7 separate regions of the Homo sapiens genome follow, and regions 1, 2, 3, 4, 5 and 7 are each linked to region 6. Evidence: fine-mapped QTL for protein levels in blood plasma. A gene starts in region 6. Each other region holds a variant in brackets. All regions are shown on one strand. Distances are between the middles of the regions.

Region 1 (4,064 bases), 10 kb after region 6:
TAACCTCAAGTGATCCACGTGCCTCAGCCTTCCAAAGTGCTGAGATTATAGGCGTGAGCCCCTGTGCCTGGCCTAGTGTGTTTTGTTTTGTTTTTTTTTTTTTTTTGAGACAGGGTCTTACTTTGCTGCCCAGGCTGGTGTGCAGTGGCATGATCACGGCTCACTGCAGCCTCAATATCCCAGGTGCAAGTCATCCTCCTGCCTCAGCCTTCCAAGTAGCTGGGACCACAGGCCTGCACCACCATGCCTGGCTAATTTTTTATTTTTAGTAGCAACAAGGCCTCACTGTATTGCCCAGGCTGGCCTTGAACTCCTGGCCTCAAGCATTCCTCCCACCTTGGCCTTGCAAATTGTTGGAACTACAGGTGTCAGCCACTGCACCCGGCCCCTGTCTGGTTCTGTTGTGTACTGCACTCACCACCTCCTTCACCTGGGATACGTTGGGCTGGCAGGAGCTGGATGCAAGGAGATGGAGCGATGGAAAGCTGAAAGAGGGTAGACTGCCTCTTGGGGTCCAGTGTGAAGTTCACGGCAGAATCAGGACTGGTACTTCCTTCTCCCAACCAGGTCCAAGACCCTCATTCTAGAGTAGGGTCACGGGGGAGAGGGGAATGTTGCTTTGACAGGGGTCCTGGGGTCAGTATTTGGAGTAAGTATGCCTTGGTGGGGTCCTCATTTGGATGTAATTACTCTGATCTGTGCTTTTTATTTTTATTTATTTATTTATTTATTTATTTATTTATTTATTTATTTTTTTGAGACAGAGTCTTGCTCTGTCGCCCAGGCTGGAGTGCAGTGGTGTGATCTCAGCTCACTACAACCTCCGTGTCACAGGTTCAAGCGATTCTCCTGCCTCAGCCTCCTGAGTAGCTGGGATTACAGTCGCCTCCCACGACACCCGGCTGATTTTGTATCTTTAGTAGAGATGGGGTTTCGCCATGTTTGTCAGGCTGGTCTCAAACTCCTCACTCAGGTGACCTGCCAGCCTCAGCCTCCCAAAGTGCTGGGATTAACAGGCGTGAGCCACTGCACCTGGGCAATTTTTGTATTTTTAGTAGAGACAGGGTTTCACCATATTGGCCAGGCTGGTTTCAAACTCCTGACCTCAAGTGATCCTCCCACCTCAGCCTCCCTAAGTGCTGGGATTACAGGTGATCTGTGCTTTATCAACCTGCTTTGTTACTTTTCGGTCTCTCCTATCCATCTGACCAAACCTGGGCATGAGAAGGGAGTATGACTCAGGACATGATGCACTGTTGGGACACACCAAGCTCAGTGTCCCCTCCGGGTCACTGGCTCAATATCCTCTCACAACAGGCTGGTTTACAACAAAACATCCAGGGCCACCCAGTTTCCTGATGGTGTGGATGTACGTGTCCCTGGCTTTGGGAAGACCTTCTCACTGGAGTTCCTGGACCCCAGCAAAAGCAGCGTGGGTATGTAGCCCTTACTCAAGGCCTCCGGGAGCTGGGATGGGGTTTCTGCCGGACTGGAGCTGGAGCTGGAGGAACTCTGCTGGTTTGTAGGGACAGCCTGTGAGCTGTCTCTGATCAGCGTGGGCACAGAGCCCTGTAGCATTCTTCCAAGGACCTGCTAGCTGTCACAGTCTCCATGCTGGGCATAGTGTAGGTGGCCGGCACTAGCTGTATCTTTTCTTATCCTCTGTATTTCTGTCTACAGGTTCCTATTTCCACACCATGGTGGAGAGCCTTGTGGGCTGGGGCTACACACGGGGTGAGGATGTCCGAGGGGCTCCCTATGACTGGCGCCGAGCCCCAAGTAAGCAGGCACTCTCATTCCCTCCCTGACGTCTCGGGAGGTAGGGGTGAGGTGATCATGGGCACCACAGACCTTGGGCTCTCCCCTTGTCCTTGGCTGTCTCCTGTCCCTGGGCCTCTGGCATCCAGTCTAGTGGTCACAGCCACCACCTTTGGTCAGTCTTATCCTGTCCTCCATTTCCCACCCTGGGACCTCTGGGCCTGTGAGCCCTGGGGAGAAATATAAGGCTTCCTCCCTTCATGGAAGGCGGGGGGACCCAGACCGCTCTGTTTGAATGTGAGCACCCTCCCCTCCCCCTCTCGTCTTGTGTCTGGCCTGAGAAAAGCTCAGTGGTTCCGGCTCCAGGACCCTTCCCACCTGACCCCTGCCTGGCTCTGGCCTGCAGATGAAAACGGGCCCTACTTCCTGGCCCTCCGCGAGATGATCGAGGAGATGTACCAGCTGTATGGGGGCCCCGTGGTGCTGGTTGCCCACAGTATGGGCAACATGTACACGCTCTACTTTCTGCAGCGGCAGCCGCAGGCCTGGAAGGACAAGTATATCCGGGCCTTC[G/A]TGTCACTGGGTGCGCCCTGGGGGGGCGTGGCCAAGACCCTGCGCGTCCTGGCTTCAGGTAAGACCCTACCTGGCCCAGCGTGGGGGGCTGTTGCCAGGAATTCTGCCCTCTCTTCCCTTCCTAAGTGTCCTCCTGGGCCAGCATGCCTCGTGTCTGTCCCACGGTGTGTGGGGTCTATGCAAATCTACCCCTAAAAGTCCAAAGAAGAAAGAGGCTGACAAATCTAGTTTCTCAGAGAAAAGCATTTAATAGGGACATACGAATAGAAGCCACATCTGTGTCTCAGGTGGGGGCAAGACAAGATGGTGGATCCCCACACTATTAGCCCCCAGACCCAGAGCTTATATTCTGTAGGGAAAGGGCGACTCCGATGCGATGTGTTGAACATTGAAGGATGATAACACAGAGGCTGTTTTGATTTATGGTTAAGTACGTGCACAAGAAACAGTAGATAAAGTGGAAATCTCAGTGGCCTTCCTGGATCTGGGGTTAATCAGAAGCCAACATGGTGGATTAGTATCCAAAATGGAGTTGCTTTGGTCTCCACAATGACTATTCTCTTGGGTCAGCCCTGTTTTTTTTTTAATTTTTATTTTTTGAGACAGAGTCTGGTTCTGTCACCCAGACTGGAATGCAGTGGTGCAATCTTGTCTCACTGCAACCTCTGCCTCCCGGGTTCAAGCGATTCTGCCTCAGCCTCCTGAGTAGCTGGGATTACAGGTGCCCGCCACCATGCCTGGCTAAGTTTTGTGTTTTAGTAGAGATGAGGTTTCATCATGTTGGCCAGGCTGGTCTTGAACTCCTGACCTCAGATGTTCCACTCGCTTCGGCCTCCCAAAGTGCTGGGATTACAAGTGTGAGCCACTGTGCCTGGCCATCCCTCCCTCTTACCCCATCCTTACTTCTTCATCCCCACCTTCACCGCAGAGGAGGAAGGCTAGAGCATTTTTTTTTTTTTTTTGGAGGCAGGGTCTTTCTCACTCTGCCATCCAGGTTGGAGTGCAGTAGCGTGATTTTGGTTCATGCAACCTCCACCTTCCAGGTTCAAGTGATTCTCCTGCCTCAGCCTCCCGGGTAACTGGGACTACAGGCGCGTACCACCACACCCGGCTAATTTTTGTATTTTTAGTAGAGACTGGGTTTCACTATGTTGGCCGGGCTAGTCTCTAACTCCTGACCTCAAGTCAGGAGGATCTGCCTGCCTCAGCCTCCCAAAGTGCTGGGATTACAAGCATGAACCACCGCACCCGGCCAGATTTTTTTGTATTTTTAGTAGAGATGGGGTTTCACCATTTTGGTCAGGCTGGTCTTGAACTCCTGACCTCAAATGATCTGCCCACCTTGACCTCCCAAAGTTCTGGGATTACAAGGATGAGCCACTGCACCTGGCCTCTAGACTACAGTTTTTTATTTATGAGTTGCGCCTCCATCTGTGGGCAGCACGGAGCCTCTGTAGGCAACACAGGGAGGAAGCAGGTGCAGATCTGGCTGGGCCTGCTTGCCTGGCAATTGGGAAAGCCACCCCTTTTATGGCTCCTCCCCCGTCTTTTCATGACTGTTGCAGCTCACCAGCTGCAGCTGTAGAGTAGAGCTTCTTCCTCTAGAAGGGAGCTTTCCTCCCTCTGCTAGGACTTGGGGGAGGCTTATGGACCCTCACTTTGGGAGCTATGAGCCAGGGCTGTGCCAAGCATCTCATGAGCTCAAGTGCCTGCCACTGCTTGACCTGCTTGGT
Region 2 (4,064 bases), 910 kb before region 6:
CCCAGCTACTTGGGAGGCTGAGGCAGGAGAATCGCTTGAACCCTGAAGGCGGAGGTTGCAGTAAGCCAAGATCACACCATTGCACTCCAGCCTGGGCAAAGAGAGCGAAACTCCATCTCAAAAAAAAAAAGAAAAAGAAAAAGTTTTATTTATTAGAAACATTCATTGTCATTATAAATAAGCTTTGTTAAAGGTTGTTAATTCAATTTCCAAATGAGCTGTAAATGGTTTTCATTAGAGAGACTACTTGATTTGTTATTTTCAAATAGCAAATTTTTGCCCACTGGGGTTATGTAACCCATATATTAAAATTGGAAGATCATTCTTTTATTCTTGGCATCTATGCTGTGCAGTGTTTGATTTGTTCTCTGATTTGTCTTCACTCTTTATAAACACTGAAACGGCCAGGCGCGGTGGCTTACGCCTGTAATCCCAGCACTTTGGGAGGCTGAGGAGGGCGAATCACGAGGTCAGGAGATCGAGACAACCCTGGCTAACATGATGAAACCCTGTCTCTACTAAAAATACAAAAAAATTAGCTGGGCATGGTGGTGGGCGCCTGTAGTCCTAGCTACTTGGGAGGCTGAGACAGGAGAATGGCGTGAACCTGGGAGGCAGAGCTTGCAGTGTGCCAAGATGGTGCCATTGCACTCCAGCCTGGGTGACAGAGCGAGACTCCGTCTCAAAAAAAAATAATAAATAAATAAATAAACACTGAAACGAAATGCATAACCTCTTAAGACATGCATTCATGTGAATCATTAAAGAATGTTTGTCTTTGTGGCAGTTTATCATTTTAATAATTCACATTCCTTCTTAAAATGTTAAAATGTCTGCTCTTCAAAATAGACTGCAGTGAAAGGCATGAGAAATGCTGTGGGTCATTGATGGAAACCATAATTGTCCTTAGCTTTTGTCCCATGTTAACAGACTCTCAGGGTGTTAGATCATAACATACCACAGAATTACCAATACACTGCCCTCAAAGTCAGGAAAATTTTATTTATTTATTTATTTTATTTATTTATTTTTTTTTAAAAAAAACATGGTCTTATTCTGTTGCCCAAGCTGGAGTGCAGTGGCATGATCATGGCTCACTGCAGTCCCGACCTCCTGGGCTCAAGCAATCCTCCTGACTCTGCCTACTGAGTAGCTGGGACTACAGGTGTGCACCACCATGCCCAGCTAATTTTTTCTTTTTTTGTAGAGATGGGTGCATTTTAAAAAGATATAATTCACATACTATAAAGTTCACCGTTTTAGTATTTATTTATTTATTTTGAGATAAGAATCTTGCCCTATTGCCCAGGCTGCAGTGCAGTGGCCCGACCTCAGCTCACTGCAACCTCTATCCCAGGTTCAAGTGATTCTCCTGCCTCAGCATCCTGAGTAGGTGGGACTGCAGGCACGTCCCACCATACCCTGCTAATTTTTGTGTTTTTAGTAGAGACAGGGTTTCACCATGTTGGCCAGGCTGGTCTTGAACTCCTGACTTCAAGTGATCCACCTGCCTCCGCCTCCCAAAGTGCTGAAATTACAGGCATGAGCCACCACACGTAGCCCCATTTAAAAAATATACAATTCAGGGTCATTTTGTACATTTACAATGTTGTGCAAGCATCATTGCTACCTATATATAGTTCCAGAACATTTTCATCAACCCATTAGGCAGTCACACCTCATTTCCCACTACCCCTGGCTCCTGGCAACCAGTAAACTGCTTTCTGTCTCTGTGGATTTGCCTCTTCTGGGTATTTCATATCATTGGAATCATATAATATGTAGCCTTTTCTGTCTGGCTTCTTTGACTTAGCATAGTATTTTCATTATTCATTCATGTTTTAGCATGTATTAATACTTCATTCCTTTTTTAAAAAAATTAATAGACTTTATTTTTTAGAGCAGTTTTAGGTTTACAGAGAAATTGGGCATAAAGTACAGAGAGTTCTCATATACGCTTACCTTCCTTGCACCTCTCCCCACCCACCCCGTTTCCCTTAATTTTAATATCTTGCATTATTGTGATATATTACAATTTATGAACCAATATTGATGCGATTATTAACTAAAGTCCATAGTTTACATTAGAGCTCATTTTTTGTGTTGTACAGTTCTATGGTTTTTGACAATTATGTCGTGTCCACCATTATTATTATTATTTTTATTTATTTATTTTTTTGAGATGGAGTCTCACTCTGTTGCCCAGGCTGGAGTGCAGTGGCGTGGATCTCGGCTCACCGCAAGCTCTGTCTCCCAGATTCACACCATTCTCCTGCCTCAGCCTCCCGAGTAGCTGGGACTACAGGTGCCTGCCACTGTGCCCGGCTAATTTTTCATATTTTTAGTAGAGACCGGGTTTCACCATGGTCTCGATCTCCTGACCTCGTGATCCGCCCGCCTCGGCTTCCCAAAGTGCTGGGATTACAGGCGTGAGCCACCGCGCCTGGCCGTCCACCATTATTTTTTATTTTTTGAGGCAGAGTCTTGTTCTGTTGCCCAGGCTGGAATGCAGTGGCACGATCT[C/T]GGCTCACAGCAACCTCCGCCTCCTGGGTTCAAGTGATTCTCATGCCTCAGCCTCCCAAGTAGCTGGGACTGCAGGCGTGTGCCACCATGCCTGGCTGATTTTTGTATTTTTAGTAGAGACGGGGTTTCACCATGTTGGCCAGGCTGGTCTCGAACTCCCAACCTCAGGTGATCTGCCTGCCCCAACCTCCCAAAGTGCTGGGATTACAGGCATGAGCCAGCGTGCCTGGCCAGTCGTGTCCACCATTATAATAACAGTTTTACTAACCTAAAAATCCCCTGTGCCCCACCATCTGTTTATCCCTCCCTCACCCCAAACCCCTGACAACTATCAGGTGAAATTCACCCCCGATATTTCACGTAGGCTCTTTTCTATTTTCCCTAAGTGTCGGCCGGCCTGAGAAATAAAGGGACAGAGTACAAAAGAGAGAAATTTTAAAGCTGGGTGTCTGGGGGAGACATCACATGTCAGCAGGTTCCGTGATGCCCCCTGAGCCATAAAACCAGCAAGTTTTTATTAGTGATTTTCAAAAGGGGAGGGAGTGTACGAATAGGGGGTGGGTCACATAGATCACATGCTTCACAAGGTAATAAGATATCACAAGGTAAATGGAGGCAGGGCGAGATCACAGGACCACAGGACCGGGGTGAAATTAAAATTGCTAATGAAGTTTCAGGCACGCATTGTCATTGATAACATCTTATCAGGAAACAGGATTTGAGAGCAGACAACTGGTCTGACCAAAATTTATTAGGTGGGAATTTCCTCGTCCTAATAAGCCTGGGAGCACTACGGGAGACCGGGGCTTATTTCATCCTACAGCTGTGACCATAAAAGACATCTGCCCCCAAAGCAGCCATTTTAGAGGCCTCCCTTCAGGGATGCATTCTCTTTCTCAGGGATGTTCCTTGCTGAGAAAAAGAATTCAGCGATATTTCTCCTGTTTGCTTTTGAAAGAAGAGAAATATGGCTCTGTTCCACCTGGCTCACCGGCAATCAGAGTTTAAAGGTTATCTCTCTTGTTCCCTGAACATTGCTGTTATCCTGTTCTTTTTTCAAGGTGCCCAGATTTCATATTGTTCAAACACACATGCTCTACAAACAATTTGTGCAGTTAATGCAATCATCACAGGGTCCTGAGGCAACATACATCCTCCTCAGTTTACGAAGATGACGGAATTAAGAGATTAAAGTAAAGACAGGCATAGGAAATCACAAGAGTATTGATTGGGGAAGTGATAAGTGTCCATGAAACCTTCACAATTTATGTTCTTCTGCCATGGCTTCAGCTGGTCCCTCTGTTTGGGGTCCCTGACTTCCCGCAACAGACAACCACTGATCTTTTTTTTTTTTTTTGAGACAGACTTTCGCTGTTGTTGCCCAGGCTGGAATGCAGTGGCACGATCTTGGCTCACGGCAGCCTCCACCTCCCGGGTTCAAGCGATTCTCCTGCCTCAGCCTCCCGAGTAGCTGGGATTACGGGCATGTGCCACTACGCCCAGCTAATTTTGTATTTTTAGTAGAGACAGGGTTTCTCCAG
Region 3 (4,064 bases), 540 kb before region 6:
ATGTCCTTTATAAATCCACACACCTTGCAGTGTTCTCCAGTTCTCTTTCTAGGTGCTCAGGGATCATTTGTTTGATGAGATGTTCTTGCATAGTTCTGAGGAATCACCAGCATCAGGCTCAAACATCACAGACATTGTGTATCGCTTATCATCTGGCACCTGCCTCTGCTCCACAATGCCTCAAGGCTTATTGACAGTAGTTTATGGAGTATATCATGGTCAGCTGCTACTTTTCTGAGACCCGTGGGATGTAATTCAAATTGATCAGAGGAAACAAACCCACTGGGCACTGGGTATGCTACCTTCCCTGCACATGGTCCTTCCAGCTGGGTCTCTGATGAAAGAGAAATATAGGAGTTGAATAGTTGTTTTCCCTGCCATGGTATCCATTATTCATCCTAAATACCTCTCAGTATATCTTCAAGAATACTTTTGATCACCTGCCAGTTTTTTCTTTTCTTTTTTTAGACACAATCCCACTTTGTTGCACAGGCTGGAGTGCAGTGGCATGATCTCAGCTCACTGCAACCTTCGCCTCCCAGGTTCAAGCAATTCCCCTGCCTCAGCCTCCCAAGTAGCTGAGATTACAGGCATGTGCCACCATGCCCAGCTAATTTTTGTATTTTCAGTAGAGACAGGGTTTTGCCAAGTTGGCCACGCTGGTCTTGAACTCCTGGCCTCAAGTTATCCACCCATCTCAGCCCCGCAAAGTGCTGAGAACACAGGCGTGAGCCACTGTGCCCAGCCTACCTACAGGTTTTTTCAAGTGTCATTACTTGTTCTGGGATTGTGTCTCCCCGATCCTATTAGCAGCAGTGAGCTAGCTCTTCAGAAATTTATAGATGAATGGAGCCTGGGTGGTTCCATCCAAGCTTTTAAAAAATGTACCTGTAATAGGCTGGGTGTGGTGGCTCACACCTGTAATCCCAGCACTTTGGGAGGCCAAGGCGGGCGGATCACTTGAGGTCAGGAGTGCGAGACCAGCCTGGCCAACATCGTGATACTCCGTCTCTACTAAAAATACAAAAAATTAGCTGGGCACGGTGGCAGATGCCTGTAGTCCCAGCTACTCAGGAGGCTGAGGCACGAGAATCACTTGAACCTGGGAGGCGGAGGTTGCAGTGAGCCGAGATCACGCCACTGCACTCCAGGCTGGGCAACAGAGTGAAACTCTATCTTTAAAAAAAAAAAAGTGCCTGTTATGGTTTTCCCTGTGATTTTTTTTTTTTTTTTTTTTTTGGAGACGGAGTCTTGCTCTGTCACCCAGGCTGGAGTGCAGTAGTGCAATCTCAGCTCACTGCAACCTCCGCCTCCGGGGTTCAAGCAATTCTTCTGCCTCCTGAGTAGCTGGGATTACAGACGCGTGCCACCACGCCCAGCTAATTTTCATATTTTTTGTAGAGATGGGGTTTCACCACATCGGCCAGGCTGGTCTTGAACTCCTAACCTTGTGAGATCTGCCTGCCTCGGCCTCCCAAAGTGCTGGGATTACAGGTGTGAGCCACTGCGCCTGGCCTGACCATACTTTTTTAAATTACAAAATATGCTTTTTATTTCTCAGTGCTGGGCTTTTAAAAAGAGCCATTAGAGATTTCTATAGACAAAGTTACAGCCTTGTAATACTATCTTTACCCTGCAAGTCACACAAATGCGGTAAACTGATTTTCAGCCAAAGCATTAAATCAATTCAATGGGGAAAAAAATTCTTCTTAAGAAATGATGTTGGAACAATTGGATATCCATATGGCAAACAACCTTAACCCCTCTCTCTCACTGTTATATGCAAAAATTAATTCAAGACAGATCAAAGACCTAAATGTAGAAGCCAGAACCATAAAGCTTCTAGAAAAATACATCAGAGAGTACTTTTTGAAATCATGGGGTAAGGATTTCTTGGACAGGACACAAAAAGCACTAACTCATTGAAAACTGGATTTCAAAATTTAAAATAATTTCTGCTCATTAAAATACATCATTAAAAAAATGAAAATGCAAGCCACAGGTTGGGAAAAAATATGAGCTGAATATATATGTAACAAAGGACTTGTCTGCAGAACTCCAACAAATCAGCAGATGATGAGGTCAGGAGATTGAGACCATCTTGGCTAACACATGGTGAAACCCCATCTCTACCAAAAATGCAAAAAAATTAGCCAGGTATGGTGGTGGGCACCTGTAGTCCCAGCTACTCGGGAGGCTGAGGAAGGAGAATGGTGTAAACCCAGGAGGTGGAGCTTGCAGTGAGCCGAGATCGCACCACTGCACTCCAGCCTGGGCAACAGAGCGAGACTCCATCTCAAAAAAAAAAAAAAAAATGTCCGGGCGCAGTGGCTCACGCCTGTAATCCCAGCACTGTGGGAAGCCAAGATGGGTGGATCACCTGAGGTCAGGAGTTCAAGACCATCCTGGCCAACATGGTGAAACCCCATGTCTACTGAAAATACAAAAATAGCCTGGTGTGGTGGTGCATGCCTGTAATCCCAGCTACTCAGGAGGCTAAGGCAGGAGAATTGCTTGAACCCAGGAGGC[G/A]GAGGTTGCAGGGAGTGAAGATCGCGCCATTGCACTCCAGCCTGGGCCACAGAGTGAAACTCCATTTCAAAAAAAAAAAAAAAAGACTTACAATCCTGAAGTTTGGAGAGGATATGCGGCAAATGGAACTCCCATACATTCTTGGTGGGAATGTAAAACAGTACAACCACTTTGGAAAATTGACAGTTTCTTATAGTTAAACATATATCAACCCAATCACAGCAACTCCACTTATAGATATTTATCTAAGAAAATAAAAACATAAGTCCACAAAAAAAATTATACAAATGTTCACAGCAGCCTTATTCATAATGGCCCCACACTAGAAACAAATGTTCACATCATAAATTATGATGTCACACAATGGAATACAGTAAAACAGTAAAAAGGAATTAACTATTAATGAATTTTTTTCTTTTTAAAAATTTTATTAATTTTTTTGTAGAGATGTGAGTCTCACTGTGTTGCCCAGGCTGGTCTCAACCTGCTGGCCTCAAGTGATCCCCCTGCCTCAGTCTTCTAAAGTGCTGGGATTACAATGAACCACCTCGCCTAGCCTGTATGAATCTTAAAAACATTATGTAGAGTGAAAGATGGCAGGCCCACACACAGAAGACCCATACTGTAGAATTCCACTTTTTTGAAATTCAGGAATAAGCCAGCCTTATTTATAGCAACACTAGTCAGAAGGCGGCAGTGGCGGTGGTGGCTGAGGCGGAGGGAATCGAACAGAAAGAGGCACAAGGCTACATTCTAGAGTGATGGAAATGTTCTGTATCTTGTTTGGTGCTTGGGTTACATGGTGGTACAACTGTCAAAACTCATCAAATTGAATATTTAAGATCTGTGTTTTTAATTGTATGTAAATTATACCTTAATTTTTAATCACCTTAAGTAGTTGTGCCCAAGGACATAGAACAACCTGTTCACACCTTGCAAATTCAGTTCTGTAATCAAACTAAATGGATATGTGTGAATTAGAAGTCTCTTTCCTTTAAAACAAAACAAAAAAACCTGTAAGCTTACTTTTGGGGACATCATCGGTACAGGCTGGGGCCAAGAGAATAAGTTTTCTGAGAAAGAAACTTCAAGCTAAGGCCCAGTAGGCTGGTGAATCCCAGCACTTGCTGAGCGTATCTGAAGATGGCACTTTTCCCTGGGCAGTGTGTCACACTGGGTGAGTGGCTGAGCTCCAGATGTTAGGAAGTCCTCACCACTCATGAACAACTCATACTGAGGAAGGGAGGGTTCAAAAGGGGTTCTCCCGTATCATTTCTGGCAAGCAAATTTAATGATGGCTATTCATAGAGCATTGGTATGTATCAGTTTGCAGTTGTAGCTATACAGGTTGGGCAATAAGACTTGGCACTGAAAGAGTGGCAAGCCCTCACTTAGTGTCAGCCTCCACTGTGCCTCAAGGGCCACTCACCATGAGACTAGCCCCAGATCCAGCCCCACACCTTCCAGAGCACTGCATCCTGAGAGGCACCTCCACAGACTTGATGCACACCTCTGTCCCCTCAGGCACATTCCAA
Region 4 (4,054 bases), 430 kb before region 6:
ACCCTATCCGTCTCCCTTCCTGCAACCCAAGAGTACCACCCACCTGAAACATGCCCACCTGAAACATGCCCACCAGAGTGGCTTCTTCTCAGTTAGAGAGTGTGGCTCAGAGAGGCCAGGCCCACCAGGCTTTGGGGAGAAGGGTGTACACTGGCTGCCTGCTCCTTATCTGAAAAGCCTTCCCGGATCTCCCTAGGCAGAGAGAGAACTCGCCTCTGCCCACAGACATCCCTCCCCAGCAGCTCAGCATTCTGCAGCGGCCCTTACCTCTCATCCCTCCCGCCAACACACCAGGCACTGTGCTACCTGCTGGGACGGTCACACCAGATCTGCCAAGGTCCTTCATGGCTGTGACTGTATCTTTCTATCTTTATGGCCCTAGAATCTAACAGGCTACCTGAATGTCTGCCAAATGTTGATAGCTCCATAATTGCTGAGTAGGTGTGTGAAGGCAGGAGGAAAGAGATGCGTCTCTACCATGTTCACTCCGGATCTCTCCGCCATTCCTCTTTTTTAAAGTTTGTATATAAAAATGAATGCTGTACCAAAGGTATCAGAAGAGAAATGAAATTTAAATTAAAAAAAAAAAGAGCCGGGCGCAGTGACTCATGCCTATAATCCCAGTACTCTGGGAGGCCGAGGCAGGCGGATCACCTGAAGTAAGGAGTTTGACCAGCTTGGCCAACATGGCGAAACCCCATATCTACTAAAAATATAAAAATTAGCCATGCATGGTGGTGCATCTGTAGTCCCAGCTACTCAGGAGGCTGAGGCACGAGAATTGCTTTAACCTGGGACGTGGAGGTTGCAGTGAGCCGAGATCACACCACTGCACTCCAGCCTGGACAACAGAGCAAGACTACATCTCAAAAAAAAAAAAAAAAAAAAAAAGAATGCCATCTTTTTTTTTGAGACAGGCTTTTGCCTGTCAGGGTGCAGTGGTGCAGTGGTGCAGTTATGGCTCGCTGCAGTCTCAAATGCCAGGGCTCAAGTGATCCTCCCACCTCACCCTCCCAAGTAGCTGGAACTATAGGCACATGCCACCATACCCAGCTAATTTTTTTGGCAGGGGGGGACAGAGTTTTGCTCTGACACTCTGGCTGGAGTGCAGTGGCACAAACACAGCTCACTGCAGACTCCACCTCCCATGCTGAACCAATCCTCCCACTCAGCCTCCTGAGTAGCTGAGACTACAGGAGTGCGCCACCACACCTGGCTATTTTTTGCATTTTTTGTAGAGGCAGAGTCTAACTACGTTGCCCAAGCTGGTCTTGAACTCCTGGGCTCAAGCTATCCTCCTTCCTTGGCCTCCCAAAGCACTAGGATTACAGGTGTGAGCCACCACACTGAGCTCAATACTGTTTTTTTTTTTGAGATGGGGTCTTGCTCTGTCACCCAGGAAGGAGCACAGTGGCGCGATCTCGGCTCACTGCAACCTCCGCCTCCTGGGTTCAAGTGATTATCCTACCTCAGCCTCCTGAGTAGCTGGGATTACAGGTGCACACCACCATGCCCGGCTAATTTTTTTTTTTTTTTTTTTTTTGAGACGGAATCTCGCTGTCGCCCAGGCTGGAGTGCAGTGACGCAATCTCGGCTCACTGCAAGCTCCACCTCCCAGGTTCACCCCATTCTCCTGCCTCAGCCGCCCCAGTAGCTGGGACAGACGCCCGCCAACACACCTGGCTAATTTTTTTTGTATTTTTAGTAGAGATGGGGTTTTACCGTGTTGGCCAGGATGGTCTCGATCTCCTGCCCTCGTGATCCGCCCGCCTCGGCCTCCCAAAGTGCTGGGATTACAGGCGTGAGCCACTGTACCTGGCCCCAATGCTGTCTTATTAAGTACTTTTGGGCTCTTGTTGATATGATCATAGGATTGTTATTAATCAGCAAATAGCCATTGTCCAAATCTCATAAAGGAAAAAACACATTTGAGTAAACTTACAACTCTGGCTCACAGTGGAACAGCATGGGCTGTATGGTGGTTTTCCTTCTGTGACCCTGACCCTCGTGGGGAATTTGGAAACACATGGGCCACACACTTTGTGGGGCTGGGGACTCCCAACACCCCTGCGGGAGTGACTCCAGGGAGGAGAAAGGAGGGGTCAGTATGGATTATTCGCAGAGACCAAGCGCAGCCCAAAAACCTGATGACTAGGGGAGAGCTCTGAGGCTCCCGGGCACCCTTCTCAGCTGCCACCTTCTGTGGGCCAGGCTTTTTCATTCTTTCTTTTGCGCGGCATCAACCACCAGGGGGCAGTGTTCCCTCCCGCCGTCCCTCCGGGGCCGCCTTCCCGTTTTTACCTACAGGGGGAAGCAGAGAGCACGGAGCGCCCGGGAGCACTGCGTTCCAG[C/T]CACCCGGGCGGAGATCCCTCAGCTGTTAATAACCTAGCCGAGACCCGGCCCTGGCAGCTGGTTCTCCAGCTTCCACTCGCCTCTGCAAGCAAAGGAGGGTAGCCACATTTTCTCCCGGTAGAAACAGTAGACAGAACACGAGGACTGGTCTTTTTTTTTTTTTTTAATATTAATTAATTTATTTTTTGAGACGGAGCCTCGCTCCTCGCCCAGGCTGGAGCGCAGTGGCACAGTCTTGGCTCACTGCAACCTCCACCTCCCAGGTTCAAGCGATTCTCCTGCCTCAGCCTCCCTAGTAGCTGGGACTACAGGCACGTGTCACCACACCTGGCTAATTTTTTGCGGTTTTTTTTTTGTTTTTTGTTTTTTTGAAACAGAGTCTTGCTTTGTCGCCCAGGCTGGAGTGCAGTGGCGCGATCTCGGCTCACTGCAAGTTCCGCCTCCCGGGTTCACGCCATTCTCCTGCCACAGTCTCCTGAGTAGCTGGGACTACAGGCGCCCGCCACCGCGCCCGGCTATTTTTTTTTTTTTTTTGTATTTTTAGTAGAGACGGGGTTTCACCGTGGTCTCGATCTCCTAACCTCGTGATCCACCCGCCTCGGCCTCCCAAAGTGCTGGGATTACAGGCGTGAGCCACCGCGCCCGGCCATTTTTTGCGTTTTTAGTAGAGACGAGGGTTTCACCGTGTTAGCCAGGATGGTCTCCGTCTCCTGACCTCGTGATTTGCCCGCCTTGGCCTCCCAAAGTGCTGGGATTACAAGCGTAAGCCACCGCGCCCGGCCAAGGACTGGTCTTTTACAAGTCTGAAAAACGGCCGGGCGCGGTGGCTCACGCCTGTAATCCCAGCACTTTGGGAGGCCGAAGTGGGTGGATCACCTGAGGTCAGGGGTTCAAGACCACCCTGGGCAACATGGTGAAACTCCGTTTCTACTAAAAATACAAAATTTGCCGGGTGTGGTGGTGCGTGCCTGCAGTCTCTTCGGGAGGCTGAGGCAGGAGAATTGCTTGAACTTGGGAGGTGGAGGTTGCAGTGAGCCAAGATAGTGCCACTGCGCTCCAGCCTGGGCAACAGAGTGAGGCTCCGTCTCAAAATAAATGAATAAATAAAAACAAATAATAAAAAATAGTCTGGGCCGGGCGCAGTGGCTCACACCTGTAATCCCAGCATTTTGGGAGGCTGAGGTGGGCAGATCACTAGGTCAGGAGTTCAAGACCAGCCTGGCCAACATGGTGAAACCCCATCTCTACTAAAAATACAAAAATTAGCTGGGCGTGGTGGCATGCGCCTGTAATTCCGGCTACTCGGGAGGCTGAGGCAGGACAATCACTTGAACCCAGGAGGTGGAGGCTGCAGTGAGCAGAGATTGTGCCACTGCACCCCAGCCTGGGCGACAGAGCGAGACTCAGTCTCAAAAAAATAAATAAATAAAATTCTGAAAAACAAGGCTGGCTCACACCTGTAATCCTAACACTTTGGGAGGCCAAAGAAGGAAGACTGCTTGAGACCAGGAGTTTGAGACCAGCCTGGCAACACAGGGAGATTTCATCTCTACAAAAAAGATTTTTTAAATTAACCAGGAATGGTGGTGTGCCCATGTAGTCCTAGCTACTCAGGAGACTGAGGTGGGAGGATCTCTTGAGCCCGGGAGTTTGTAGTTACTGTGAGGTGTTATTGGGTCACTGCACTCCAGCCTGGGTGACA
Region 5 (4,064 bases), 990 kb before region 6:
AGGCTCTTTGCCTTTAGGTTGCCCTCTCTTGCTACCTTCTTTATTTCCTAACCCAAGAAATTCATTCAACCCTGAAGGTTAATGATTCACACTTTTTCCAAGGTATTACAAGAAAACGTTTACAATTGCTACCTGGGACTCTAACCTGGTTTCCCTATTGAGGTAGTGAACTATTTGGGGCAGGAAGGGAAGGGAGGACATCAGATCATAATAACAGTAATAGATAATAATATCTTTTGGGTGCTTACTATATGTTAGGCATTGGCTAAGGAACTTTTTGAGGTAGATATTGTTATTAGTCTCAATTTAGACATGGGGAAACTGGGGCTCATAGAAATTATATGACATATTCAAGTCCGATCTGTGTTGCTTTTCTTACTATATTCAGTTCTCCACACCTGCTGAGAATTGTGTCACATCCCTTTGGCCGGGAACCACAGGTGTGGGAGAAAGCACTCTCTTTTGTTATTCCCCCTAATAAAAATAGTTAGCAGCCAATTTCCATTTGCTGGTAGTTATTATTACTGTTGCTACAGTGCTTTTTCCCTATTTTATTTTATTTATTATTATTTTTTGAGACTGAGTCTCACTGTGTCACCCAGGCTGGAGTGCAGTGGCACAATCTCGGCTCACTGCGGCCTCCGCCTCCCTGGTTCAAGTGATTCTCCTGCCTCAGCCTCCCAAGTAGCTGGGATTACAGGCCTGCACCACTGCGCCTGGCTACTTTTTGTATTTTTAGTAGAGACAGGGTTTCACCATGTTGGCCAGGCTGGTCTTGAACTCCTGACCTCAGGTGATCCAGCCCACCTCGGCCTCCCAAAGTGCTGGGATTACAGGCATGAGTCACTGTACCTGGGCTTTTTCCCTATTCCAAATGGCTGGGTTGAGTTTTGAAACAATCTTGTGAGGCAGGCAGATGAGGAGGCATGGCTAAGGTGAGCCACATGACAGTGACGGACCAGCATCACACAGTTGGTAAGTGGCAAAGCCAGACCTTAGGCATAGGTAGCTTGACTGAAGTCTCCTGATCTGCAGGCTAATGCTGTCTTTGCCATCCCAAGTCCTCTTTGGGCTTCCTTGCTGTTATCAGCAGGGGTGGGGCCTGGGCTTGTTCCAGGGCGTGCTCCAGGAGACTGGGTCGTCTTCAATGACTGGCCTGTCCTACACATGTCCCTTAATAGCCCCTAGGGTGCAGGCTGGCTTACTGGACTTCCTGCTGTTTGGGAGCCTCATCTCGGCGGTGGACCCCGTGGCCGTGCTAGCTGTCTTTGAGGAGGTGCACGTCAATGAGACTCTCTTTATCATCGTCTTTGGCGAGTCCCTGCTCAACGATGCTGTCACCGTGGTGAGCGTGCTCAGCTGACTGCCATTCCCTGACCCCAGGCTGCATGCTCTGACCAACTAGGGGTCTGCGCAGACTCAGTCCCTTCCCTTGGGTCCCCTGGGGCAGAAATATGCTGTCTGCTTTCACCCTGCTCTCCCAGCAGTCTGTCTCCCAGCAGTCCCAGTTGCTGCCTTCCCGCCTCACTGCTGACTCTCCTCTTCTCGCTCAGGTGCTGTACAAGGTCTGCAACTCCTTTGTGGAGATGGGCTCTGCCAATGTGCAGGCCACTGACTACCTGAAGGGAGTCGGTCAGTATTTCCCCGCTCCCAGCTGGCATTGGAGGTCTGCCTCCCCTGGGTTGCTGAGGCCCTCCCACCCCGCATCAGGACAGAAGAGGCTATTCGGGTTGCCTCATCTCCTCTATAGAGAAATGGGGTCTGGGAGGGGCTTGCCAGGGATCCTGGCTCTGGGGTTTTGAGCCCCTGGGAGTGCGGTGGGCATCATCCCTCACTCCCTGCCAGGCAGCAGTCTTGTCAGCCCGGGTAGGGTCCGGGCCAGGGGTCATGCTGACAACCCACTCCTCCCCCAGCCTCCCTGTTTGTGGTCAGTCTGGGCGGGGCAGCCGTGGGCTTAGTCTTTGCCTTCCTCCTGGCCCTGACCACACGCTTCACCAAGCGGGTCCGCATCATCGAGCCGCTGCTGGTCTTCCTCCTCGCCTACGCAGCCTACCTCACTGCTGAAATGGCCTCGCTCTCCGCCATTCTTGCGTGAGTT[C/T]TGGGGGCCTTGCAGGCAGATAGCTGGGAGGGGGCACTGGAGATGGTTGCCCCTCATAGGGACACAGGCAGGAACTTCAGGAGTCCATAGGTTTCCCTGAGCCCTTGTGGTAGTGGGAGCCTCAGACTGTCCTGGGGAGTCAGTAAACCTCAGCAATATTTCAGGAGCTGCCCCCAGAGCTGTCCTCAGCACCCTGAAACCCTCTGGGTGTAGGCTGGGCTGGAAGTAGACTTTAAGGCCTGGGGCCACCAGCTCTGGAGGCCGCAGCACTCCAGAAGGTGCATTAGAGAGCCCGCTAGTCAGAGCACGTTCCTTCCACCTTCCCTTCCAGGAGACACTGAATGGGAAGCCTGGAGATCTGGACTCTTAGCCCAGCACTACCATTCAAGTCTTCAGGCCTCCCTGGGCTTCAGCTCTGAGAGTCTGACATCCTGTAATGGGCAATGCCCCCTCCTGCAGTATGCTCAAACCCTGGAGGCTGAGCCCCCTGGAACCCTTCCCCACTTGCCATGTCTCTCCATCCTCTCCCAGGGTGACCATGTGTGGCCTGGGCTGTAAGAAGTACGTGGAGGCCAACATCTCCCATAAGTCACGCACAACTGTCAAATATACAATGAAGACTCTAGCCAGCTGTGCTGAGACCGTGATCTTCATGCTGCTTGGCATCTCAGCCGTGGACTCTTCTAAGTGGGCCTGGGATTCTGGGCTGGTGCTGGGCACCCTCATCTTCATCCTGTTCTTCCGAGCCCTCGGTATTGCTGGCACCCTCTGCTTTCCCACTCTCCTTCCTGTCCCGCCCCTCCCTGCAGCTCATCTCCCTATCTGAGTCCACATCTTTGTCAATTCCTAAGCCTCCTCTTGTTGCTCACCTGTCCCAGCCCCTGTTAGACCTCAGCCCAGATACTTGGTCCCATCCGGTCCCACGTCCTCCACTCCCAACGCTTTGCTCCCACTGGCCTCCCTCCCGCTGTAGGCGTAGTCCTGCAGACCTGGGTGCTGAATCAGTTCCGGCTAGTCCCTCTGGACAAGATTGACCAAGTGGTGATGTCCTATGGGGGCCTGCGGGGGGCTGTGGCCTTTGCTCTCGTCATCCTACTGGATAGGACCAAGGTCCCTGCCAAGGACTACTTTGTAGCCACCACTATTGTAGTGGTCTTCTTCACAGTCATCGTGCAGGTGGGAGTGCCCACAAGGCTGGGTAGGGAGAGGGTTGGGCAGGCCCTGGGGGAGTCTTGGAGCCTGTGGGACAGGGGCTTCTCTTCCCGCTGGGAGATGGAGGGCCCTGACTTCCCAGACCTTGAGTGCAGTGGGGTAGGGGTACTGAAGCTGAAGCCTCATTACGGGGAGAGAAAGGCAGCAGGGAACTGAATAGGAATAGGGCAGGGCTCACCTCCTGCCTGTCCATAGGGCTTGACCATCAAGCCACTGGTCAAATGGCTGAAGGTGAAGAGGAGTGAGCATCACAAACCCACCCTGAACCAGGAGCTGCATGAACACGTGGGTATCAGAACCCCAGCCCTCGCCTGTCCCTCTCGACCTTCTCCTATTTTGGGCAGAGTCCTGATCCAGTCCCCCTACCCACCCCCCTTCTAGACTTTTGACCACATTCTGGCTGCAGTGGAGGACGTTGTGGGGCACCATGGCTACCACTACTGGAGGGACAGGTGAGGGAGCTGCCCCGAGGCTCCTTCAGCAGCAGCAGCCCCACCAGCCAGGGAAGCATGGGGGATGTGCCACACTTCTGAGAAGGGACAGAGCCAGGTTCAGGCTGGGTGACCTCTGCCTGAAGCCCTTCAGTGGCATCCCAGTGCTCTCAGGTTAAGACAAGGCTCCCCAGTGTGGCCTGCTTGGCCCTGCATGGTTTGGCAACTGCCAGACTCCAGCCTCATCATGCTCTGCTCTGTCTTTGACTGTCTGCCTGCTAATTCCATGGACCCTGTCTTAGATCCTCAGGACCCACCATGCT
Region 6 (4,064 bases):
TGGCTGGACCTTAAGAGAGGGTGGGGCTGGTCACAGTGGCACACATCTGTAATCTCAGCACTTTGGGAGGCTGAGGCAGGTGGATCACTTAAGGCCAGGAGTTCAAGACTGGCCTGGGCAACATAGTGAGACCCCAACTCTACAAAAAATAAAAAACTAGCTGAGCTTGGAGGTGTACACTTGTAGTCCCAGCTACTCAGGAGGCTGAGGTGGGAAGGATTGCTTGAGCCTGAGAGGTCAAGGATGCAGTGAGCCGTGATTGTGCTACTGCACTTGGGTGACAGAGAGACCCTTTCTCAAAAAAAAAAAAAAAAAAAAAAAAAAAAGGAAAGAAAAGAAAAAGGGGCCGGGCACAGTAGCTCACGCCTGTAATCCCAGCACTTTGGGAGGCCGAGGCAGGTGGATCACCTGAGGTTGGGAGTTCAAGACCAGCCTGACTAACATGGAGAAACCCCGTCTCTACTAAAAATACAAAATTAGCCAGGGTGGTGGCGCATGCCTGCAATCCCAGCTACTCGGGAGGCTGAGGCAGGAGAATTGCTTGAATCCGGGAGACGGAGGTTACGGTGAGCCAAGATTGCACCATTGCACTCCAGCCTGGGCAACAAGAGCGAAACTCTGTCTCAAAAAAAAAAAAAAAAAGAAAAAGAAAAAGAAAAAAGAAAGAGGGAGGGTGGTGGTAGCCCAGTCACCAACATGTTTCACTATAAGAACTCGAGAAGGGCAGGGCAAGATAGTGGCTTCATAGCCAGGTCAGCTGCTTACCAAGAAGAAGGAAGGAAGGGGCAGGACAAATTTCTTGGGACCAGGTGGGATGACCAGGGTGCAGCTGCCCCTTCGAAGGGGTGGGTGTGTGGAGGATCAAGACCTCTATTTCCCAAATACTCTCGTCCCTCTATCCCACAGTGACCTATGGTGCTGGCATATAACCAGCTGTCAGGTCTTTGCCCACTCTGTTCGCCCCTGCTTCCTGGCGCAGGGAGTCCATGTCCTCTCTGGTTCCCCAGGTTTGCGAGAGTGGAGGGGGACCACGAGCTCCCGATGCCTCTCCTGCTCTGCAGGGGAACTTGCAGATGGCCCATGGCGCAGGGTCGAGACTCAAGCCCACTCCCAACCCCGCGCCCGAACTGCCCGGACTGGCGGGGTGACGCTGCACTCTGCGCCCCTAAAACGAACAGATTAACCCCTCTCTTGGGAACTGAACATGCTGACCTGGCCTCTCCCGGTTCCCCCCGCATCTGTAACCCCGGGGCAGAGTTACAGGGGCTGACTGGCCGCACCCAGGTGCCCTCGGGGCAGGGTGTGCTAAGAATTGGTGTGGGGGCTGCACAAAGGTCCTGGTCAGCTCCTGGTCACCTGAGGCCCAAGAACTGTCCGGGACTCACTTCCTCTCTTCTTGCTTTAACCGGGGTCGCTCAGCAGCGGCCAGCGCTGCACCCCTTATCCTCTCCCGGTCTTGTCCGTTCCAGATCCTCCAGGTCAGGGGGTCGCCAAGTGAGAGCTGCGCAGCGTGGATTTCGGGTACCCAGGGCTGGGCGGGGTACAGCAGCGGCGAGCTGGGTTCCCGGGTGGGCGACTGACAGCCCGGAGCCAGGCGATACCTCGATCCATCGATGCGCTCGGCGCTCAGCGTGGTCCAGGAAGCAGGGGGTTGGGCAAGGGCGGGGCGGCGACCTCCGACTGGGAGGGGCGTATATGGCGGCGAGTCCCTATTGGCCAGCCATTTGCGGGAGGCGGGCCCTGATTGGCCGGGGGGATGCGGGGGATGCGGGCGGCGGGGTTAAGCGCGTCGCCACCGCCCCCGCCTAGGCGAGAGCCCAGAGAGCTGAACCTGCATCCCGGACCTGCGGCGACCGTCGTACACCATGGGCCTCCACCTCCGCCCCTACCGTGTGGGGCTGCTCCCGGATGGCCTCCTGTTCCTCTTGCTGCTGCTAATGCTGCTCGCGGACCCAGCGCTCCCGGCCGGACGTCACCCCCCAGTGGTGCTGGGTGAGGCACGGGTCTCGTGGTGGATCTGTCGGTCGGGCGGGACGGGCCGCGGGCGGGGCTGCCTTCCCGGTCTGCTTCTGTTCCAGTCACGAAATGGGGGAGCGTATTGGTATCTGTCTTGTCACTTAGGTGATCTAGATCTGCCGGCTCACCTCCCGCCATGCTGGGCGCGGGTGTGGTCAGCTCCCCACCTCCTGTCCTGGTAGAAAATGGGGGTGAGTGGGAGAGTTACCATCTGGTTATTCATAGTTCCACCTGTCCGCATCATTCCCAAGCCTTGCCTCCCCTTATCCCATTTTTAAGCTGGAAAGACAGGTGCTTCAGCCCCACTCCTGAGGGATGGTGGGGGTGTGTAGAGTGGCTCCTGAGTTGACTTCTGCATCGACCTGGGCCTGGTTAGGAGGCTGTCACCCTCGACCCCTCCAATGCCACATATGCCAGAAGGCATTGCTGAAAGGAACCTCCTTAGGGAAAGGATTGCTGTCCTAGCTGGCCACCAACTCCCACAACTTATCAGATGTGTGGCATTGCCTGAGGGAAAAGGCCTAAGGGAAACTGAAGACAACTGAAGTCAGGGGAAAGGGTTGGGACAATGGCCATGAACCTGTGTCAGGCAACATGCTTGTACTCTTACCCTGCCACACATGCTTGGACTAGACTATGTGGAGGCTCGGTGACCTCCCCTGCTCACCCCGCTCCTTGATCACAACCCTGGCAACTCTACAACGGCCACTGTATTTCCTTGCAGGGATGGGCAGGGATGAGACCTCTGTCTGGGGGGCCTTGGGTGCCTCATTGAGGCCGTCACTCCCATCCAGAGCTGGTGTGTCCGTGGCCAGCCAGGATTCCTGAAAGCAGAGGCATCTGAGGCATGAATTACACGTGGAGTCTAGTGCAGCATGATCTCCATGCTCTTTCTGCTGAGAGTACTTTAAATGGGGACGATGCAAATCACAGAAGGGTAGAGTTGGCAGGTAGGGTGGTGCCAGGCAGGCCCCACCAGGAGTTCCCAGCCAGGAAAAGCTCCAGGGGGATACTAGGCCCAGGTTCACCATGGGATTTGGGCAGACTTGGCCCTGCCTCCCCAAAGCTTGCAGGATAGGAATAACAGTGATCCCCAGAGAGGAAGTCTGTGTGGGGCAAGCACAGAGAATCCACCAACCCAGCCTGGATGGGTGGGTGTCAAGTAAGGCTTCCTGGAGTATATAGCTGGAGCTAAGGCCAGGAGAGAGTAATGGGTCGGGGAGAGACGTGAGCATCTCAGGCTGCCTGGGATCGAGTCACAGGAGGAGTGGACTGCACAGGACTTGTGACTGGTTGGGTCATCTGAACTTTATCTTGAGGGCCTCAGGGAGTCCTGGGTTGGCCTGCAGAGTTCTAAGTCTGAGGGGCGTGGCATTAGGAAGCATGTGGTCTGTGGCACACAAAATGGCACATAGCCATTTTGCCTGGATTGATGCTAACCGCACTCATCAATTCAGTCAGTCTGTTTATCCTTGGTCACAGCAGAAGAGCCTCAGACCCCACCCAGAATCACAGAGCAGCAGGAGTCCTAACATGCCCAGCTTCTCAGGGAGTGAGGCTGCTGGCCTTAGCCCTGGGAGACCTCACGGTGGGCAGTTGGATAAGCAGCTCCTGGGCACAGAGCAGGGATCTGACCTTGACTGTCAGAAGATCAGAATCCTCTAGGGGTGGATCCTGAAATGGTGGTGGAGGAAAGAGAGACCAGCGATGTGATACAGAAGACCCTGGGCAAGGGGAAGGGACCATAGGCAAGGCCATTTCCACCTCTTGCAGCCTCAGTCTCCCCATCTGTTAAGTGGAAATAGTAAGGCTGTCCCCTCCCAGTGTTACTTGAGGTGAAAGGCATGTGGATGGCTCTTTTCCTAGTTCCAGGCGCAGATGGGCTCAGGAAGTGGCCACTGCTATTTTTAGGGGCCACACAGCCTGACCAGGGTAAGGAGCATCTGAGCAAAGCAGATCTGGTGACTTCCTCTTTTACCATTTCCCCTTTGGTAGAGACAGTGACCAGGGTCTCTGCCCTGCCCTGCCCAGTCCACAGGCATGTCATC
Region 7 (4,064 bases), 15 kb after region 6:
CTGAGAGGTTGAGGCTGCTGTGAGCCGTGATCATGCCATTATACTCCAGCCTGGGCAACAGAGTGAGACCCTGTCTCAAAAAGAAAAAAAAAGAGCCAAGGCAGGGATGGGAGTCACAGTGATTACAATGATGATAACCGGGTAGAGATGCGGGACTGTGGACTGGGCCCCTGGCTGGGGTCTGGCAGGGGCCTGGTGGTGAACATGCTGCCCAACCAGCTGGCATTCCTAAGCACAGACTGACCAGAGCCTTCTCCCTGCAGGAGACAACAACCGGATCCCAGTCATCGGGCCCCTGAAGATCCGGGAGCAGCAGCGGTCAGCTGTCTCCACCAGCTGGCTGCTGCCCTACAACTACACATGGTCACCTGAGAAGGTGTTCGTGCAGACACCCACAATCAACTACACACTGCGGGACTACCGCAAGTTCTTCCAGGACATCGGCTTTGAAGATGGCTGGCTCATGCGGCAGGACACAGAAGGGCTGGTGGAAGCCACGATGCCACCTGGCGTGCAGCTGCACTGCCTCTATGGTACTGGCGTCCCCACACCAGACTCCTTCTACTATGAGAGCTTCCCTGACCGTGACCCTAAAATCTGCTTTGGTGACGGCGATGGTACTGTGAACTTGAAGAGTGCCCTGCAGTGCCAGGCCTGGCAGAGCCGCCAGGAGCACCAAGTGTTGCTGCAGGAGCTGCCAGGCAGCGAGCACATCGAGATGCTGGCCAACGCCACCACCCTGGCCTATCTGAAACGTGTGCTCCTTGGGCCCTGACTCCTGTGCCACAGGACTCCTGTGGCTCGGCCGTGGACCTGCTGTTGGCCTCTGGGGCTGTCATGGCCCACGCGTTTTGCAAAGTTTGTGACTCACCATTCAAGGCCCCGAGTCTTGGACTGTGAAGCATCTGCCATGGGGAAGTGCTGTTTGTTATCCTTTCTCTGTGGCAGTGAAGAAGGAAGAAATGAGAGTCTAGACTCAAGGGACACTGGATGGCAAGAATGCTGCTGATGGTGGAACTGCTGTGACCTTAGGACTGGCTCCACAGGGTGGACTGGCTGGGCCCTGGTCCCAGTCCCTGCCTGGGGCCATGTGTCCCCCCTATTCCTGTGGGCTTTTCATACTTGCCTACTGGGCCCTGGCCCCGCAGCCTTCCTATGAGGGATGTTACTGGGCTGTGGTCCTGTACCCAGAGGTCCCAGGGATCGGCTCCTGGCCCCTCGGGTGACCCTTCCCACACACCAGCCACAGATAGGCCTGCCACTGGTCATGGGTAGCTAGAGCTGCTGGCTTCCCTGTGGCTTAGCTGGTGGCCAGCCTGACTGGCTTCCTGGGCGAGCCTAGTAGCTCCTGCAGGCAGGGGCAGTTTGTTGCGTTCTTCGTGGTTCCCAGGCCCTGGGACATCTCACTCCACTCCTACCTCCCTTACCACCAGGAGCATTCAAGCTCTGGATTGGGCAGCAGATGTGCCCCCAGTCCCGCAGGCTGTGTTCCAGGGGCCCTGATTTCCTCGGATGTGCTATTGGCCCCAGGACTGAAGCTGCCTCCCTTCACCCTGGGACTGTGGTTCCAAGGATGAGAGCAGGGGTTGGAGCCATGGCCTTCTGGGAACCTATGGAGAAAGGGAATCCAAGGAAGCAGCCAAGGCTGCTCGCAGCTTCCCTGAGCTGCACCTCTTGCTAACCCCACCATCACACTGCCACCCTGCCCTAGGGTCTCACTAGTACCAAGTGGGTCAGCACAGGGCTGAGGATGGGGCTCCTATCCACCCTGGCCAGCACCCAGCTTAGTGCTGGGACTAGCCCAGAAACTTGAATGGGACCCTGAGAGAGCCAGGGGTCCCCTGAGGCCCCCCTAGGGGCTTTCTGTCTGCCCCAGGGTGCTCCATGGATCTCCCTGTGGCAGCAGGCATGGAGAGTCAGGGCTGCCTTCATGGCAGTAGGCTCTAAGTGGGTGACTGGCCACAGGCCGAGAAAAGGGTACAGCCTCTAGGTGGGGTTCCCAAAGACGCCTTCA[C/G]GCTGGACTGAGCTGCTCTCCCACAGGGTTTCTGTGCAGCTGGATTTTCTCTGTTGCATACATGCCTGGCATCTGTCTCCCCTTGTTCCTGAGTGGCCCCACATGGGGCTCTGAGCAGGCTGTATCTGGATTCTGGCAATAAAAGTACTCTGGATGCTGTAAGGTGCCCTGGCCTACATTCTGCTCTGAGCATGAGGGGAGGGAGGTGGTGGAGGTACAAGGTGGCTACAGAGGCAGGAAATTAGGGGCTGGGCCTTTACAGGAGCCTTGACAGGTTGTCTCAGCATCAAAGCATGGTTCCTGTGCCCTTCTGTGGACCTCATCCTCCTGTCCTCTCTCCTGGAATCCAGTTCCCTTCCTGGGACTAAGAACCAGAACCTGAAACATTCCTGTGGAAATGGGGTCCTGTCCTCCCCCTGCTCCTGCCTGGTCAGCAGGCCCCACATGCCACCCAGGAGCTGGGAGCAAGGACAGTCCTGCAGGTCACCCTGGCTACACCCTCCTTCCCAGCCTCTGTCCTCCCTCAGCTTGCAAGTGTCAGCATCCTTTGAACCTAGAGTTCTTTTTAGGATGCCACCCTTCTTTGCATCTTCAGCTCATCAGCCTGCCATCTGTACCCCTGGGGAGGTACAGATGAGAGAGATCAAGGGAGGAAAAGAGACTACTAGGCTGAGACTGGTATGGACAAAGACAGAAACAGAGACAGAGCCAAGGAAACATGGATAGGGGATAGGGTCCCAGCCTGAATTTTGTAGTCCAGAGCCCAGCCGGTACCCAGTTCTGTCTTAACTCAGCCCCACAAGCTGGGGCGCCAGACTTTGATACACCAGGGGCCACAAGAGGGCGCCCTGAACCCTCTCACTGAACCACCTGTTAGCCAAACCTGGAAGGACGAGGTGACCCAGAGTGGGGGTAAAAATGCCTGTGGTAAAAATACTGGGGTCCAGCTGCAGCTCTGGCCTCAGTAAAAGGATGACAACATGAAAGGGAGCTTCACCCCAGGCCCTGCCCAACCTGACTCCCTGCTTGGCCCTGACACCCCCCTACTCATGGCACCCCACTCATCCCTGACCCATTTTAGCTTCACCATCACCCTCAGTTTCATAGCTGCAGAGAGAAAGGGCATGGAATCAGAGGAGGCTTAAGGATCAGCATACTAGGGTTCAAATCTCAGCTCTACTAGCTCCAGCCAAGTTGTCTGGGGAGCCTCCTGACCCTCAGTTTCCTCATCCAAAGAATGGGGACATCTGGGTGCATTGGCTCACGCTTATAGTTCCACCTACTCAGGAGGCTAAGGTGGGAGGATCGCTTGAGCCCAGGAGTTTGAGACCAGCCTGGGCAAGACTTTATCTCTAAAGGTGAAATAGGCCGGGCGCCATGGTTCACGCCTGTGAGCCCAGCACTTTGGGAGGCCAAGGAGGGTGGATCACATGAGGTCAGGAGTTCAAGACCAGCCTGGCCAACATGGTGAAACCCCATATCTACTAAAAATACAAAATTAGTCAGGTGTGGTGGCACATGCCTTGTGGTCCTAGCTACTCTGGAGGCCGAGACAGGAGAATCACTGGAACCTGGGAGGCGGAGGCTGCAGTGAGCCAAGATGGCACCACTGCACTCCAGCCTGAGCAAGACAGAGCGAGATACATCTCAAAAAAAAAAAAAAAGATGAAATAAATCTGTAGTCCCAAGTAGGAAGCTGAGGCAGGAAGATCGCTTGAAACCAGGAGTTCGAGGCTGCAGTGAGCTATGATCACACCTGTGAATAGCCATTGCACTCCAGCCTGGGCAACAGCAAGATCTCTAAAAGCAAAAGAAAAGAATGGTTACAAATAAATGTATCCTGCAGGGTGGTCCTGAGGAACACTGATGGTGTTGGAGAACATCTGATTCAGGGTGTGGTGTACATTGGGCTTTCAGCTGATGGGCTACGTAACTGGGTATGAGACTGCAAAGCCAGACGGAGCTGGCATATGGTGTTTTTTTTTTTTTTTTTTTGAGATAGACTTTCGCTCTTATTGCCCAGGCTGGAGTGCAATGGCGCGATCTCGGC

Which allele goes with the higher level. Alleles are on the strand shown, and positions count from the first base shown. The strength of an association depends on the size of the effect and on how common the allele is. Not every link is listed here.
As copies of A replace G in region 1, the plasma level of the protein whose gene starts at base 1,812 in region 6 goes down (weak association).
In carriers of allele C in region 2, the plasma level of the protein whose gene starts at base 1,812 in region 6 tends to be higher than with T alone (moderate association).
In carriers of allele G in region 3, the plasma level of the protein whose gene starts at base 1,812 in region 6 tends to be higher than with A alone (weak association).
As copies of C replace T in region 4, the plasma level of the protein whose gene starts at base 1,812 in region 6 goes down (moderate association).
For the plasma level of the protein whose gene starts at base 1,812 in region 6, C is the high allele of the variant in region 5 and T is the other (moderate association).

The links. PIP is the chance, under the fine-mapping model, that this variant and not a neighbour inherited with it causes the effect. The UK Biobank Pharma Proteomics Project read protein levels with antibody pairs (Olink). The fine-mapping took linkage between variants from a reference panel, not from the people measured, so its PIPs are less certain.
Region 1: its variant is fine-mapped to the plasma level of the PLA2G15 protein (UK Biobank, PIP above 0.99). The variant lies in the coding sequence of PLA2G15. If it changes the protein, the assay may bind it differently, which can mimic a change of level.
Region 2: its variant is fine-mapped to the plasma level of the PLA2G15 protein (UK Biobank, PIP above 0.99).
Region 3: its variant is fine-mapped to the plasma level of the PLA2G15 protein (UK Biobank, PIP above 0.99).
Region 4: its variant is fine-mapped to the plasma level of the PLA2G15 protein (UK Biobank, PIP above 0.99).
Region 5: its variant is fine-mapped to the plasma level of the PLA2G15 protein (UK Biobank, PIP 0.98).
Region 7: its variant is fine-mapped to the plasma level of the PLA2G15 protein (UK Biobank, PIP above 0.99).

What each region holds. Positions count from the first base shown.
Region 1 is chr16:68,253,602-68,257,665 of GRCh38, forward strand. It overlaps PLA2G15 (phospholipase A2 group XV), which reads left to right. Exons shown (of 6, transcript NM_012320.4): 3 at 1,318-1,436; 4 at 1,681-1,779; 5 at 2,165-2,389. Among named protein-coding and RNA genes, the nearest start is that of SLC7A6, 8.9 kb to the right of the region's middle. The variant G/A (reference allele first, on the strand shown) is at 2,332.
Region 2 is chr16:67,331,870-67,335,933 of GRCh38, forward strand. The region is part of intron 1 of LRRC36 (leucine rich repeat containing 36); the gene reads left to right. Among named protein-coding and RNA genes, the nearest start is that of LRRC36, 7.1 kb to the left of the region's middle. The variant C/T (reference allele first, on the strand shown) is at 2,524.
Region 3 is chr16:67,704,761-67,708,824 of GRCh38, forward strand. The region is part of intron 1 of GFOD2 (Gfo/Idh/MocA-like oxidoreductase domain containing 2); the gene reads right to left. Among named protein-coding and RNA genes, the nearest start is that of GFOD2, 13 kb to the right of the region's middle. The variant G/A (reference allele first, on the strand shown) is at 2,530.
Region 4 is chr16:67,814,446-67,818,499 of GRCh38, forward strand. All of the region lies in intron 2 of TSNAXIP1 (translin associated factor X interacting protein 1), which reads left to right. Among named protein-coding and RNA genes, the nearest start is that of TSNAXIP1, 9.6 kb to the left of the region's middle. RefSeq lists a silencer at 2,673-2,855. The variant C/T (reference allele first, on the strand shown) is at 2,352.
Region 5 is chr16:67,253,840-67,257,903 of GRCh38, forward strand. It overlaps SLC9A5 (solute carrier family 9 member A5), which reads left to right. Exons shown (of 16, transcript NM_004594.3): 3 at 1,182-1,345; 4 at 1,554-1,632; 5 at 1,914-2,091; 6 at 2,630-2,850; 7 at 3,072-3,274; 8 at 3,506-3,595; 9 at 3,692-3,762. Among named protein-coding and RNA genes, the nearest start is that of SLC9A5, 6.9 kb to the left of the region's middle. The variant C/T (reference allele first, on the strand shown) is at 2,099.
Region 6 is chr16:68,243,562-68,247,625 of GRCh38, forward strand. PLA2G15 (phospholipase A2 group XV) reads left to right here and starts at 1,812. Exons shown (of 6, transcript NM_012320.4): 1 at 1,812-1,992. The coding sequence starts at 1,866. RefSeq lists enhancers at 618-1,156, 2,278-2,778 and a silencer at 1,632-1,861.
Region 7 is chr16:68,258,883-68,262,946 of GRCh38, forward strand. It overlaps PLA2G15 (phospholipase A2 group XV), which reads left to right. Exons shown (of 6, transcript NM_012320.4): 6 at 264-2,176. The coding sequence ends at 775. LOC124903704 (a long non-coding RNA gene) reads right to left here. Exons shown (of 3, transcript XR_007065096.1): 3 at 3,779-3,814. Among named protein-coding and RNA genes, the nearest start is that of SLC7A6, 3.6 kb to the right of the region's middle. The variant C/G (reference allele first, on the strand shown) is at 2,015.